Homo sapiens: one gene and its partners. The protein of the gene in region 1 interacts with the protein of each later gene in a pairwise test. Each region holds a gene or a part of one and is shown in the gene's direction. Other genes may lie near its edges.

Region 1 (3,627 bases):
AGCATAAATCTGTAGTCTCAGTTATTTGGGAGGCTGAGGTGGGAGGATTGTTTGAGCCTGGGAGGTCAAGGCTGCAGTGAGTCACAGTGGCGCCACTGTACTCTAGCCTGGAGGACAGAGCAAGACCCTGTCTCAGAAAACAAACAAACAAATATATATTTTGTGAAACTTCACTAAATAACAGTGTGGTTACGTGTAGCAGAAAGTTTAATTAATGGACAGCAAATGTAGCAGGAGACCCAAATGTAAAAAGGAATTTACGATACAAGTGACATTTCAAATATATATAAGGAAGACATGGCTTATTCAATAAATAGGATTCATTAAAGTTGGAGCAGTATCTCATATCTAAATAAGTACTGAATGGATTGGTGGGTTAAATGTAAAAAATGAAATTATAAAAGTACTAAGATAAACACAAAACATAGAAAAAAAAAGTGCTAGGAAACATGGGAAATTTAAAAATCTGAAAAGTTGGGAACTAGAACATAAAACCCAGAAGTCATAAAAGAAATCACGGAATTCTGTTCAATCTCAAGTCGTAGACTTCTTTTTCTGCCCCGTATTCTCTGTGTTTAATATCCTATGATCTTGAGGCACTTAATTTCTCTGTATTTTTTCCCATGTCTATACTTAAATATTGAGAGGATCAAATGAGATAATATGTAGAAATGCTTTGGAAAGTTGTAGTAGGTTAAAAAATAATAATAATGTTATTTATACACTTTGCTCCTGTCATTTTTTCTGTGCCTTCTTTTGGGAGGAAAGGACAAGGTGTGGGGGTGATAACTAATTAAGGAGGTAATTTTGGCTGTGTGAGGTGGTTCACGCCTGTAATCCCAACTTTAGGAGGCTGAGGCAGGAGGATCACTTGAGCTCAGGAGTTCGAGACCAGGCTAGGCAACATTGTGAAACCCCATCTCTACAAAAAATACAAAAATTAGCCAGGTGTGGTGGTGTACACCTGTAGTCTTAGGTACTGGGGAGGCTGAGGTGGGAGGATGGCTTGAGCCTGGGAGGCGGAGGTTGCAGTGAGCTGTGATTGTGCCACTGCACTCCAGTCTGGACAACATAGCAAGACCCTGTCTCAAAAGGATTTTTGCTGTCTGTTCTTTGCATGTCTAATTATGTTTTTATAAAAAGTTTGTTACAGCAATACATTTTTACCCTAGAGTAAGCATTTGTAAGGGGATTAGCTTAATTTCAGATAGAGTAAACCAACTTTTAATCAGTATTTTTTTTTATACTTACATGATCTCTAACCACACTGTTGTGTTGGAAATTTTGTTAGTTTTGCGGGTTAATTGTATATGTGACCATTTCCACTTCTTTAAACATAAATTTCAGTGTTCAAGAATACTTTGTTCGCAAATCCAATGCAAAGAAAGGCATGTTTGCCAGTACTCATCTTATACTGAAAGAACGTGGTGGCTCTAAATATGAAGCTGCAAAGAAGTGGAATTTACCTGCCGTTACTATAGCTTGGCTGTTGGAGACTGCTAGAACGGGAAAGAGAGCAGACGAAAGCCATTTTCTGATTGAAAATTCAACTAAAGAAGGTTAATACTTTTATTCTGTTCTTTTATATATATTTACAACTAGATGGTTTCTGGGATATAAATGTGCCAATGCTTGTGTTTAGGAAGGGTCATTGATTTTTGCTTTTCACATTGGGTGCAGTGAGGGTCTCAGTGTTCGAAGTCTACAGATGTAAGCTTGGCTCCTATTTACTGTTGATTCTTTCTATGGCTCATAGTAACACACTATATAATTAACATGCTATCTCTCCTCTTATCTTTGGGCTTCTGCATGTTTCCTGTAGACCACCTCACAGTTGCCTGCTCTTCCTGCTTATCTTTCAGTTCTCAGCTAAGATACCACTTTCCCTGGGAAGCCTTTCATTTTTTCTTTTTAATTATTATTACACTTTAAGTTCTGGGGTACATGTGCACAATATGCGGGTTTGTTACATATGTATACATGTGTCATGTTGGTTTGCTGCACCCATTAATTCGTCATTTACATTAGGTATTTCTCCTAATACTATCCCTCCCCCATCCCCCCATCCTACGACAGGCCCCGGTGTGTGATGTTCCCTGCCCTGTGTCTGTTCAATTCCCATCTATGAGTGAGAACATGCGGTGTTTGGTTTTCTGTCCTTGTGATAGTTTCCTCAGAATGATGGTTTCCAGCTTCATCCATGTCCCGACAAAGGACATGAATTCATCCTTTTTTCTGGCTGCATAGTATTCCATGGTGTATATGTGCCACATTTTCTTAATCCAGTCTATCATTGATAGACATTTGGGTTGGTTCCAAGTCTTTGCTATTGTGAATAGTGCTGCAATAAACATATGTGTACATGTGTCTTTATAGTAGCATGATTTGTAATCCTTTGGGTATATACCCAGTAATGGGATCGCTGGGTCAAATGGTATTTCTAGTTCTAGATCTTTGAGGAATCGCCACACTGTCTTGGGAAGCATTCTTGACTCACCAAGGATGGCCTTTGTCTTGGTATAATGTTTTTTGTTTCACCATGACACTCTGTATCATCCCTTTTATCTCTTACCTCAGTGTTATAATGGTTGTTTATTTTGTGTCTTCCTGCTAAATTTAAAGTTCCAGAAAGGCAGTGAACATGCATGTCTTGTGAATTCTGTATTTCCCATGTCTAACACTAGGCCTGGCATGGAGTAGCTATCTAATAAGGTTTTTTGTTAAATGTTGAAAAAAGGTGGAAGGCATAGGTGGAAGAATACAGTACCCTCTCTTGTAAGATAATAGCATCCATGGGCAAACTTCAGGGACATATCAGCAGCTTGGGAATACCTCTCAGAGTCATTACTTATTTTGCCAGACAGACTGGTAATTTTATGACTGAGGCTAAGTGATGTTCAGGTCATATTAAAATTTGATTAAGGACTTTCCAAAACTAGACTGTAGTTAACTCTGAGTACCTGTAATTGAGATTTTTCTTTTTACTCTGTCATTGACTAGAAAGACATTCACTGATAACAATTTTTGGCAAATAGGCTTATTGAGACATAGCAAGATGAAACAGGAAATCTATTATTATTTTTTCAGTTAATGTGCTTGTCTAACTCAACATATATTTAATGCATAATCTGGTTTGTTTCTTGGAAAGTAGGTATATAATTTTGTGATTTAAAGTGTACCTGAGAATTGACATGAAAACTAACAGATTAGGATGCCGAGGTAGATGGATCTCTTGAGCCCAGGAGTTATGCAAGAAAGAAAGGAAAGAAAACAGTATAAAATATTACTTCTTGTGTACCGGGAAAAAGTGGGCATTAGTGGCTCATATTTGTTTCTTTTCATTTTAAATCTCTAGAACGAAGTTTGGAAACAGAAATAACAAATGGAATCAATCTAAATTCAGATACTGCAGAGCATCCTGGCACACGCCTGCAAACTCACAGAAAAACCGTCGTTACACCTTTAGATATGAACCGCTTTCAGAGTAAAGCTTTCCGTGCTGTGGTCTCACAACATGCCAGACAGGTCGCAGCCTCCCCAGCAGTAGGACAACCACTTCAGAAGGAGCCCTCGTTACACCTGGATACACCATCAAAATTCCTGTCCAAGGACAAACTCTTCAAGCCT
Region 2 (3,627 bases), about 25 Mb from region 1:
ACAGCATATGGTCTTCAGATTGACAACAGTAGAGTCTTAAAAGTATGGTCATTTCAATAAATGACGCTGGGTCAATTGAATATACATATGGGGAAAAACTGAAATTTGACCCCCTTCCTCATACCAAATGCAAAAATCAGTATAAGACAGGTTGTAGATTTAAATGTGAAGAGTAAAAATAAGGAACGTTTTAGAAAAAACACCTAAAGAGTATCTTCATGGCCTTGGGGTAGACAATGATTTTCTTAAACAGGAAACAAAAGCACTAACTATACAGTAAGAAAGTCGATAAGTTGGGCTACATTAAAATTAAGTTTCTATTTATGAAAAGACCACTAATAAAAGAATGAAAAGTCAAAGAATGGGAATAGATATTTACAATGCATATATCTAACAAAGGACTCTTATCCAAAATATATTATTTTTCTACATTGTATGTATATATCCGAAAAAACACAGAGCCGAACAGATACTTGAGCAAAAAAGTTGAATTGGTCAATAAACATGAAGTGATTTACCACTTTATCAATCTTAAGGGAAATGCAGATTTAAATGGTAGTATCATACCATCTGACACCCACCAGTTGATTAAAATGAAAAATAAGGAAAATAGCAAACATACTTTAACTCTCATTTAGTACTTACAGAACAACCAATTATGAAAACTGGTATCTATTAATACTGGGCATATGTATAAACTACGACCCAGAAATCTCACTTATAGGTATTTATCCCAAAGAATTGTTTACATGTGTACAAAATGTAGTACTGCTCCTAATAGCTAACAATGATAACCCAAATGCCATTAACAGTGGAATATGTTCATTTTGGGAAAGTCATCTAGCTCTGCACTAGTAATTAGTTTTTTTACTTTTATATGTGTACATTAAAAGAAAACTAATGTACATGGAAAGCTATCTGCTTCTATGTTTATAACGGACATATGGTAAGATACACAAACAATTGGTAACATTGCTTGCCTACAGGGTTTGTCTTTTGAACCATGTGAATGTATTACCTATTCAAAAATAAATATAGTCATGCATTACATAATGACATTTTAGTCAATGACAGACACAGACTTCTTATTGCCTATGACATTATGGCCATTCTAACATGGTGGTGCAATGCATCACATGTGTTTGTGGTGATGCTGGTGTAAACAAACCTACTGAGCTGCCAGCTGTATAAAACTATAACACATATTAAGATTGTATACAGTACATAGTATTTTGATAAACGTGTTACCACTTATTCTTTGTTATTTTAGAGTGTACTTCTACTTATAAAAAAGTTAACTGTAAAACAGCCAGGCAGGTCTTTCAGGAGGTATTCCAGAAGAAGGTATTGTTGTTATTAGAGATGACAGCTCCCTGTGTGTTACTGCCCCTGAAGACCTTCCAGTGGGACAACATGTGGAGGTGGAAGTGGTGTTGATTACCCTGGCCCTGTGTAGACCTGGGCTAATGTCTGTGTTTGTGTCTTTGTTTTTAACAAAAAAAGTTTAAAAAGAAAAAGCCTACATTTTAAAAATAGAAAAAACTGATAGACTACAGATGTAAATAAAGTATTTTTGTATAGCTGTACAGTGTGTTTCTCTTACTACAAAAGAGTCAAAAACTTTAAAAATGGATAGGTTTATAAAGTTAAAAAGTTCTGCTAAGCTAAGGTTAATTTATTAGAGAAATTTTAAAAAATAGTGTAGCTTAAGCATACAGTCTTTATGAAATATACAGCAATATACAGTAATGTCCTAGGCCTTTACATTCACTCACTACTCAGTCATTAACTCACCCAGAGCAACTTCCAGTCCTGCATGTTTTGTTTATGGTAAGTGTCCTATACAGGTGTACCGTTTTTGATCTTTTATACTGTATTTTTCTATGTTTAGATACACAAGTACTTACAATTGTGTTATAGTTGCCTACAGTATTTAGTACAGTAATATTCTGTACAGTTTTGTAGCCCACGGGCAATAAAGGGACGTAGTAGGCTCTACCATCTAGGTTTGTGTAAGTACACTCTTACGATGTTCACACAACGGAATTAATGATGCATTAAGCAACATATGCATCACTAAGTGACACATGACTGTACTACAGTTTATTAAAGATTATCATTTGTTATAGTAAATGCTAATGGACTGGATTCTTTTAAATTCAGATACTATCAAGTTGATTAAAACACAAATCCCAATTATATATCATTTGTAAGAAACAGACTTTTAAAAAGTTGGAAATAGAGAGACAAGGAGATCTTAAGAAATTTTTTTTTTTTTAGTGATAAGTTGGTAGTATGTGAAATGAGGTGGAATTTATCTTAACATCTAATAAACTGGTTGATGGGGGATGTTATGGTATAAGGCCCAGTTTATAAAGTAGAGGAAAAATGGGGTACAGTAGGAGAGCTAAGGGTCATAATGCCAACCGTATGCAAACAGTGTGGAAATAACCATCCTGAAGGTTTTATATTCTATGCTACAGTATCCTTTATAGCGGTTATTGAATTTTAGGATTATAACAAGTATTACTAATTCTAATTTTATTTTTTAGGGTTTTTTTGGTCATTTATAAACAAAACAGGTTTCTGTTTAAAAATAATTTAAGTACTATGGAAGGAGTGGGAGGAGTTTAACGTTGGCTGAAGTTGACCTTCCCTCTGAGGTTCTCACAGTCCTGCTTATCAGGAGTAACCACCATTAATAAGTTTATTTTATAATCTTCTAGAACCTATTCACACATTTGAAAAATAATATTGAAAGAAAAAACTTAAGTTTTGTTTTAGAATATTTTCTTTAAAATATGTAGCATTTTCAGCTTCATCATACACTTGCTTTGTATATTAAAGTTCTGTGAAATTGATGTTTAATGAACACTTTATATTGCACAGGTTTTAGAATTACTTCTTGCCTTCTGTTCAGTGACTCAGCTGCGCCATATGCTCACTCAGATGATGTTTGAACAGTCTCCACCTGGCAGCGCCACTCTGGGAAGCCATACTAAATGTTTAGAACCTACTGTGGCTCTACTGCGCTGGTTAAGCCAACCTTTGGACGGATCAGAAAACTGTTCTGTTTTAGCATTGGAGTTGTTCAAGGAAATATTTGAGGTAATAGGATGACTGACAGATTGACTTTTCTACTTTTGTGACTCTCAGTTAACAATTTGTCTTCAAAAACATTCTTTGTAAACTTACAGTTCATACACTTGAGGAAAACATCTCAATTACTAACAGTCATACTAGACTCGCTAGGTTTTTTTCTGCCAGTCATATATATTAGTGTTTTCCTTTTTTTTCACTGAGTAGTGTGTATGTATATATATATATAGTGCTCATTTCAGTGTAATAAGTAAAGATATTAAAAAGATTTATATAATTTGTTGCCTGACTACTGGGGATAGTTACATTGTCTCTCCATTGCAATAGATGCCATCTACCAAGTTTAGTAGGCCATTGAATGGACAATAGAGGCATATTGGATTCAGTCAGTGAAATGGAGTAGAGCATGCCAGATAATGTGCTAGGCACTTAAGATACAGACAAAACTCCACATTCTGGTAGATCTTACTATCTGGGCAATTTAATATTCTCTACTATTCTCCCTGTTTATAAATCCATTCTGTCTAA
Region 3 (3,627 bases), about 110 Mb from region 1:
AGGTCATGATTTAACTTCAGAATTTTTAATGAGTAGAAAACTTCCTTTTTATATTTTGCTCAAGATAATAAGGCTTCTTTACTTTTTCTGAGGTGATTCCTAACTAATTGGTCAAAATAGGCATTATGGAAGCATTTAGGTGGACAGGCAAATGCTTATCTGTGTTTATGGGTGTGAGTGTATGTGTAGTGTTTTAATGAGAGAAAAGAAATAATGAAATTTTGAAAGCTTGAAATTTGATTTTCATGGCAATGTGAATGTATATACGACAGTTTTCTAAATCTGTAAGGGCACCAGTGTGATTGCAGATTGGTTGTTACCTGAGAGATTAAAACCGTCATAAGAACAAATTTAATCAGTGTGTATACTTCTTGTTTCGTATTTTTTTTGTGTATGGAATTTTTAAGGTCACTTAATTGATTCACTATCATTTTTTAATACACACATCTATACATTTAGACATATTTGGTACATATTCTATATGTATACGTACTCATTTTTGACAGTGTGTCAAAAGAGTTGTGTAAACATATTTATTTACATCCAAGTAGCTATTTTAAAAGTTTGTGCTATGGTGTTAGGGAAGAACGCATTACACTAATTTGAGTGCAAGAGTAAACTGAAGGTAAGCCTGTCTGCCTTTTAAATTAGTCTTCAAAAATTTATTTAAAAATAGGAATACTTACTATTCTTTTAGATTTAAACATTATTACTGATATTCCTGAAATGGTTAATAGTATTATTTGTGTAGGTACTAAAATAATACAGTGGGACATTTTCATATCTCATTTTAAAATAAATTGGCAGCATGTATTTTTGAATTGGTCAGTTATGTTTTAAATATTTAGCATTTGGGACTTTTAATTTTTACTACTTTATGCACTTCTGTGTTATTTCACCACATAGTTAACATTTTTGGTGTATAACTGATACATTTTATTTTTAGCTGTTTGTATATTGTGGATTATTTGGTCACAAAATAGTAACATAAGATCAATTGTCTAGCTAAAGGGAAGTCATCAGTTAAAAGAGTCAAAGTTTACTGAGAGATCTTTATAACATCTCTTTACTAAAAGAAGGCTTTGCAATTTTTAGATTCAGCTAAATTTGACAGTAATGAAGAAGATTCTGCTTCTGTTTTTTCACCATCATTTGGTCTGAAACAGACAGATAAAGTTCCAAGTAAAACGGTAGCTGCTAAAAAGGGTATGTACTTATATTTGATTGAGTTAAGCATTGGATAGAGATAGTTAATGTAAAAGGAAATGTAATTTAATTTGAAACTATTTGCATTTTTTTATCATAAAACAATTAAGAAGTATAAGTGCTTATAAGGAGAACCTCTCGTTTTCTAGCCATCTGAGGGCGTTAATAAAATTTCTGTAAGACTTAATTTTAAAGCTGTTGTAATTATAAAATAATCCCGTGCATTACTATCTAAAGATAGCTTTCTACAAAAGCTCCCTTGTGGTTAGGTTGTAATGGAGATTAAAATTTTGTCTTGCTAGTAGCTTGCTTCTGTTATCTATGTTGATCATGACTCAACTCCTTATGTGGAGGGATTGGTCAGCTCAGTTGAGGTCCTCTTTTTCTATGTGAGTCATGCAGCTTCTCTCTTTTTCACAGCCTTAGATTGGCCACAAAACACTTTGAGTTGATTAATGAATCTCTTACTAGTACCAAGATATATGTACCGTGGTCTTTTTGAAAGAGGTCAGTATTTGTGCTTTGTGTTTGAAGGATGACACTTAAAAAAAACCCCACAAATCTAATTGAGATGTGTGCTATTTAAGACAGCAAGTAAATAATATGGATTGTTCCCTCAAGGATTTTAAAAATTCACAACAGACAACATCATTACAGACACATGTATTGAATGTAGCAGAACAACAATTTTGAAAAGTCCTGCTTATTCTGAATGCAGTAGAACCATATTGAGAAACTGGTTATTTACAAGAGTCTCTGTAGCCAACACACTGGGTGACCTACCCATGTCCCTTACCACTTAGTGCATATTGGGCAATATCTGCCTTTCGTTGCCTGAGGACTTCCTCTTTGCCACTGTGCTGGAATATTAACACCCCCCTGCTCCCAGCTGCCTTTAACTAGCAGATTGAGGAAAGTTGGTCTATAAATATCTCAGTGTCCTTGCCTCTCATGTGAGCCAACTGTGGGATGTGTGTTTCACACTGGGACTCAAAAATTTCTTATGGAATTAAGCTCCTAGAGTGATGATTGGCTTGGTAACTTACCTATTACTGGCTGCCTTCTCTTCATTGTCTCATTTTTGTCTCCCCCTCCTTTATCTCTCAAATAAATACTTATACTTGAATCCATACTCTAGGATTAGGCAGATTGGCCCAAATCTGGGGAACCCACATTGAGATGGACCCTATAATTTCTCTTTTTTAAAAAAACAATCAGGCTGGGCGCAGTGGCTCACACCTGTAATCCCAGAACTCTGGGAGGTCGAGGCAGGCAGATTGCTTGAGGTCAAGAGTTTAAGACCAGCCTGGCCAACATGGCAAAACCCCATCTCTACTAAAAATACAAAAATTAGCCTGGTGTGGTGGCGTATGCATGCCTGTAGTCCCAGCTACTCAGGAAGCTGAGGCACAAGAATCGCTTGAACTTGGGAGGCAGAGGTTGCAGTGAGCTGAGATGGCACCACTGCACTCCAGCCTGGACGGTAGAGTGAGACTCCATCTCAAATAACAACAACAGAACAATCAAAAAGCACCTTTAAAAAATAATCTTCATATGAGCATCTTATAAACACCCTGAAAACTTGGGAGCCGTATTACTTCCTGAAACATACCCCGTTTCCTTCATCAAACTGTTCACCCATATTTAACCTAATGAGTTTAGCATGACCAAAAAGCTAGATTATCATGGTACCTATCCTACTTGCTTCCTTCTTCAGTAGCTGAACTGGCCTTGTCTAAGTTGAATAGGTAGACTGCCTGTGTGGTGTGATTTCAGGGACCCCAGCAAGTCCTCAGCTTTCCTTTAGCCTCCCTTACGAAATATAATTCCAATAAAATATCATTTCAAGAAGAGGATGCATCATATCCCTCTGTGGGATTGTCTATGTTAACTCCAAATTGCGTATGTTACACAAGTTAAATTCTGTAGTTCCAATAGTTTACAGCAGAAAGGCAGCTATAGTACTCAGATATCTGACCTGTTTGCCTGGTAGAATTGAAAGTGCCATGTAACTCCAAGCCAAGGAAAAAAAGTGGTTCCTAGAACACCTGGCTAAGTTTATACTCCCTGCTAGGAGCTGCCCTGTGGTTCTTGTGGTAGATATAGTCATGAAGACTCAGGTGGGAAAAGCCACACAATCTGGGTGCCACTTTCCTAGGGCTCCTCCTGCTCTTGGCTAACGAGGGGCCTTATTTGTAGTGTCTCAAATTGCGACTGGAATACATTTTCCATAGAATCAGTGTAGGTTTTTTTTTTTTTTTAAACAAAGTCTACAGTTAATATATTTTCTTCCAAATTAGGTTTTCTTAATTACAAAAAGTGATTTATCAGTTTTTTTTTTTTCTTTTTCTTTTTTTTTTTTTGAGACAGAGTCTTGCTCTGTCACCAAGGCTAGAGTGGAGTAGCGTGATCTTGGCTCAC
Region 4 (3,627 bases), on another chromosome or scaffold:
AATTCTACCTAACATTTAAAGAAGATGTAATACCAACTCTATACAAACTCATCCTGAAAGGAGGGCCCAATTCCCAGTTCATCTTATGAGACTATTATCCTGATACCAGTAGTAGACAAAGACAATATAAGAAACTGCAGACCAAGATTCCTCATGAAAATAGATGCAAAACATAAACGCAGAAAAGCAAAGATAGTTGCTACCTTGGTTGGATGGTATTGACTGGAAAGGAGCACAAAGGAACCTTCTGTATTGTTGGAAGTGTTTGTTATCACAATCTAGGTAGTTATTACACGGGTTTAAACACATGTAAAAACTCATCAAGCTGTTTAAGGTTAGAGCACTTCTTTCAGTTTGTTGTATATATGTCATACCTCAAAACATTTTTCAATGTTCAATCTACCAAGAAGGATGAATGAAAAGTGTCTCACATAGTTTAGTGTATGACACCTGACATGAAATTCTTTCTATGCTGATGCCCAAGAAATTCTGTCGACTAATGAAACAGTTTGGAAACTCTCCTCTATTCTGCTTAAAATAAAGTCACTGTTGGTTTATACAGCACTGTATCTTCTGGTTAACTCGGCCATTAGAGTGAGCACCAGCCCAGTTGAAAGTTCACAAGAAGCAAGTAAACACTGGATTTGATTTAGAATCAATAATAGCAGCAGGGTTTTCTCAGGCTGTTTAGAAGCATCGTGGCAATTGTTTGAGAAAATATAGGTAGTTCTAGTGAATGCGCTACAGAATGTTGGAAGTAGCGGTTAGCTTAGAGATTTTAAAATGTTAGAATCAAATAAAAAACAAAAATAAAATTTAGAATCTGTCTACAGCAGTGAAGATGACCTTCAAATTGTAAGTAAAATTAATATTTCTTAGAAGGAAAACCTCTCCAGTTAGTGAAATTACAACCAAAGAGAATAATATAATATAATCACAAAGAATGTTGCATTTTTGCCTCTTTCTTAGGGACCTTCTCAAATGATTCATGTGAGAAATTGCTTCTGCTGTACGAGTTTGAAGTTAGAGCCAAATTGAATGATCCATTACTGGAAAGCTTCCTGGAATCAGTGTGGGAGTTGCCTCATTTAGAAACTAAAACTTTTGAAACAATTGCAAGTAAGAGCTATATTTATGCTTTTGTAAGGCTGGTGCCCATTTAGATCGTATGACTTTTTTTCTTCTCTTTACTCTTCTTTCTTACCTCCAGGTAGGAAATAATTTTTTCTCATAGCACTTTGTTTCTCCTTCTCTAATGCCATTCTTAGACTATTTTGTATTATGATCATTTGTGCATTTATCTTCTTCACTCTATGAGATTATAATCTCTTTAGGGTCATAAACAATAATTACTTAATTTGTACTTACAAACCCTAGCGAAGTTCATTGCTCCTAATAGGTGCTCAAATTTTTTCTGTGTGGAATTTAATTATGTAACTACACAACAGGGGGAGCTCAAACTTTAGAAAGTTTTTCTGGGCTAGCTAGAAATAACTGAGTGCTTCAACAATCAAAAGTGATGCAATCTTAGCTGTTTGTTGAAATGTACAGAGAAATACTGGTAATATTTTTTAACACAATTGCCACTCTCAAATTTCAGGCCAAACTTTACGTGGGTTTGGGGGCATAGAGCCTTTTTGGGAGTACACTGCAGGAAACAGCCTAATTATCTTCCCTTTTTATCTCTCACCCTCTTCAGGAGCATGTGTGTGGTTAATAAAAATATTAGGTAGCTCCAAGTGCACAAGAGTCACATTTGCCTTTCCTTGGTCTTGCCAAGACAGAATTCCTAGAGCCATGGAGCAGATGATATATACTTTATGGACATGTGACAGCAACCACTGCTCCTTGTATAATGGAACTCCAATTCTAAAAATCTGTTAAATGCATCTGGAAGTCTTAGGGTTAGTTACCTCTGATACTCCCTTGTCAAGTGTTTCCTATTTTTAGTATCAGATAAAAATAGGACATTTTAGTACAAACCTGTTTCAATTAGTGCCCTTTTACTGATCTGCTTTCTGTTTCCTTCTTAGTGTGCCCTTCCTTGACTGTCATTCATAAGATTATTGCTTCACCTGTATGACTGTGTGCAAGGTCATACAAACAGTAGGTTTTCTGTTGATGTTTGCTGAAAAAAGGATGTTACCTGGTAATCCCACCATGCTACTCTGCCCAGAAAGTAGAAGCTATTTCCAAAAGCGACTGTAGATTTATCATTTATAAAATTCATTGTTGTTTATTTTTGTTCATCTGTTTCAGCCCAGTTTCATTAGAGAAAGCAAGTGGTAGCCTGGGATGAAAACTGTGATGGGTGACATTATCATGTTCACAACCTTTTTCCTTTTCTTACTCTAGTAATAGCAATGGAAAAGCCTGCACACTATCCTTTGATTGCTCTCAAGGCCTTGAAAAAGGCTTTATTGCTCTACAAAAAGGAAGAACCAATTGATATATCACAATACAGGTTAGTAAATACAATCCAGCCTTTTTGCTAGCCAAAAGAACTATAGTCAATGCCTCAAAAGTAACCAATCGTTCTTAATTGACTCAACTTTAAAGATGATATGGGGATGATCTGGGGGCATTCTTGTGAACAGCTCCATACTGAGAGTTGTATTACAGACCAATAATTATTTAGCAAAGTCAAGGAGCTTGGTTTTCCCAAAGGAGAAAAAAAAGGGGAAAAGTTGCTTCTTTGTGTGAATCTGTGTATATAATAAAACTGCTAAGTACCTTTCTTTCTTTGTTTCATCACTAAATAATATTCCAAATGTACAGAAAAGCACAGGGGTTAATATAACAAACACCAACGTATCCACCACCCAGATTTATTTGTTTTATTTTTAGAGATGGGGTCTCGTGATGTTGCCCAGGCTGGATTCAAACTCCTGGGCTCAAATGATTCTCCACCTCAGCTTCATGAGTAGCTGGGATTACAGGCACGCAGCACCCAGATTTAACAAATGTTAACATCTTGCTATGTTTGCCTCATTATTTTTCTAAGCACTTTAAGCACCGATAAGTGCTGTATAAAATATTATCTATTGGAGACTTTTTTGTTTTCTGTGTCCAGACATGGGGAAAAATAGATGTTGTGTGACTTTTTTTGTCTGGAAAACATCATTACAGTCTTCCTGTGTTAAGGCACGAAAGACAGTTCTTGTGGAATCATTCCACTTTAAACCCCAGTTCCCTTGCCCATTTGAGGAAGTACCGAGATGCTTTAAAATGCCTGTAAATTGAACCAGCTCATAAAATATAATAGACAGCCACAACTCCTTCGTGCAGGAAACTAAAAAAAGAATGAAAGACAACCATAGGCATGAAAAAAGAAAGGATTGGTCAACCTGTTTTACAGCTTCAAAAATCTGTCTTCTGAGGTTGGAGGCCAGATAAAACCGAGGGAAGAACAGAAGTGTTTTGAAGCTGTTAGTCTGGGATGAGATCCAGGTTTTACTTATCTTAGCCATGAAGCCAATGATTTCTTTCCTTATGGGATGAGTTTTCTCTTTTTGATTTTCAGCAAATGTATGCACAACTTGGTTAACCTCTCAGTGCCAGATGGGGCGTCGAATGTAGAGCTCTGTCCCCTGGAAGAAGTTTGGGGCTATTTTGAAGATGCTCTGA

Evidence for each region.
Region 2: the proteins of TOPBP1 (region 1) and CIP2A interact in a two-hybrid assay, tested with the Homo sapiens proteins (2 studies listed by BioGRID).
Region 3: the proteins of TOPBP1 (region 1) and TOP2B interact in a two-hybrid assay, tested with the Homo sapiens proteins (one study listed by BioGRID).
Region 4: the proteins of TOPBP1 (region 1) and TEX11 interact in a two-hybrid assay, tested with the Homo sapiens proteins (one large-scale study listed by BioGRID).

Annotation. Positions count from the first base shown.
Region 1 is NC_000003.12:133,637,891-133,641,517, reverse strand, and holds part of TOPBP1 (DNA topoisomerase 2-binding protein 1), read left to right. Parts: intron 1-1,347; coding exon 1,348-1,559; intron 1,560-3,355; coding exon 3,356-3,627. UniProt on the Homo sapiens protein: Scaffold protein that acts as a key protein-protein adapter in DNA replication and DNA repair. Composed of multiple BRCT domains, which specifically recognize and bind phosphorylated proteins, bringing proteins together into functional combinations.
Region 2 is NC_000003.12:108,568,870-108,572,496, reverse strand, and holds part of CIP2A (protein CIP2A), read left to right. Parts: intron 1-2,889; coding exon 2,890-3,108; intron 3,109-3,627.
Region 3 is NC_000003.12:25,602,339-25,605,965, reverse strand, and holds part of TOP2B (DNA topoisomerase 2-beta), read left to right. Parts: intron 1-1,095; coding exon 1,096-1,206; intron 1,207-3,627. UniProt on the Homo sapiens protein: Key decatenating enzyme that alters DNA topology by binding to two double-stranded DNA molecules, generating a double-stranded break in one of the strands, passing the intact strand through the broken strand, and religating the broken strand.
Region 4 is NC_000023.11:70,552,143-70,555,769, reverse strand, and holds part of TEX11 (testis-expressed protein 11), read left to right. Parts: intron 1-969; coding exon 970-1,119; intron 1,120-2,355; coding exon 2,356-2,464; intron 2,465-3,523; coding exon 3,524-3,627. UniProt on the Homo sapiens protein: Regulator of crossing-over during meiosis. Involved in initiation and/or maintenance of chromosome synapsis and formation of crossovers.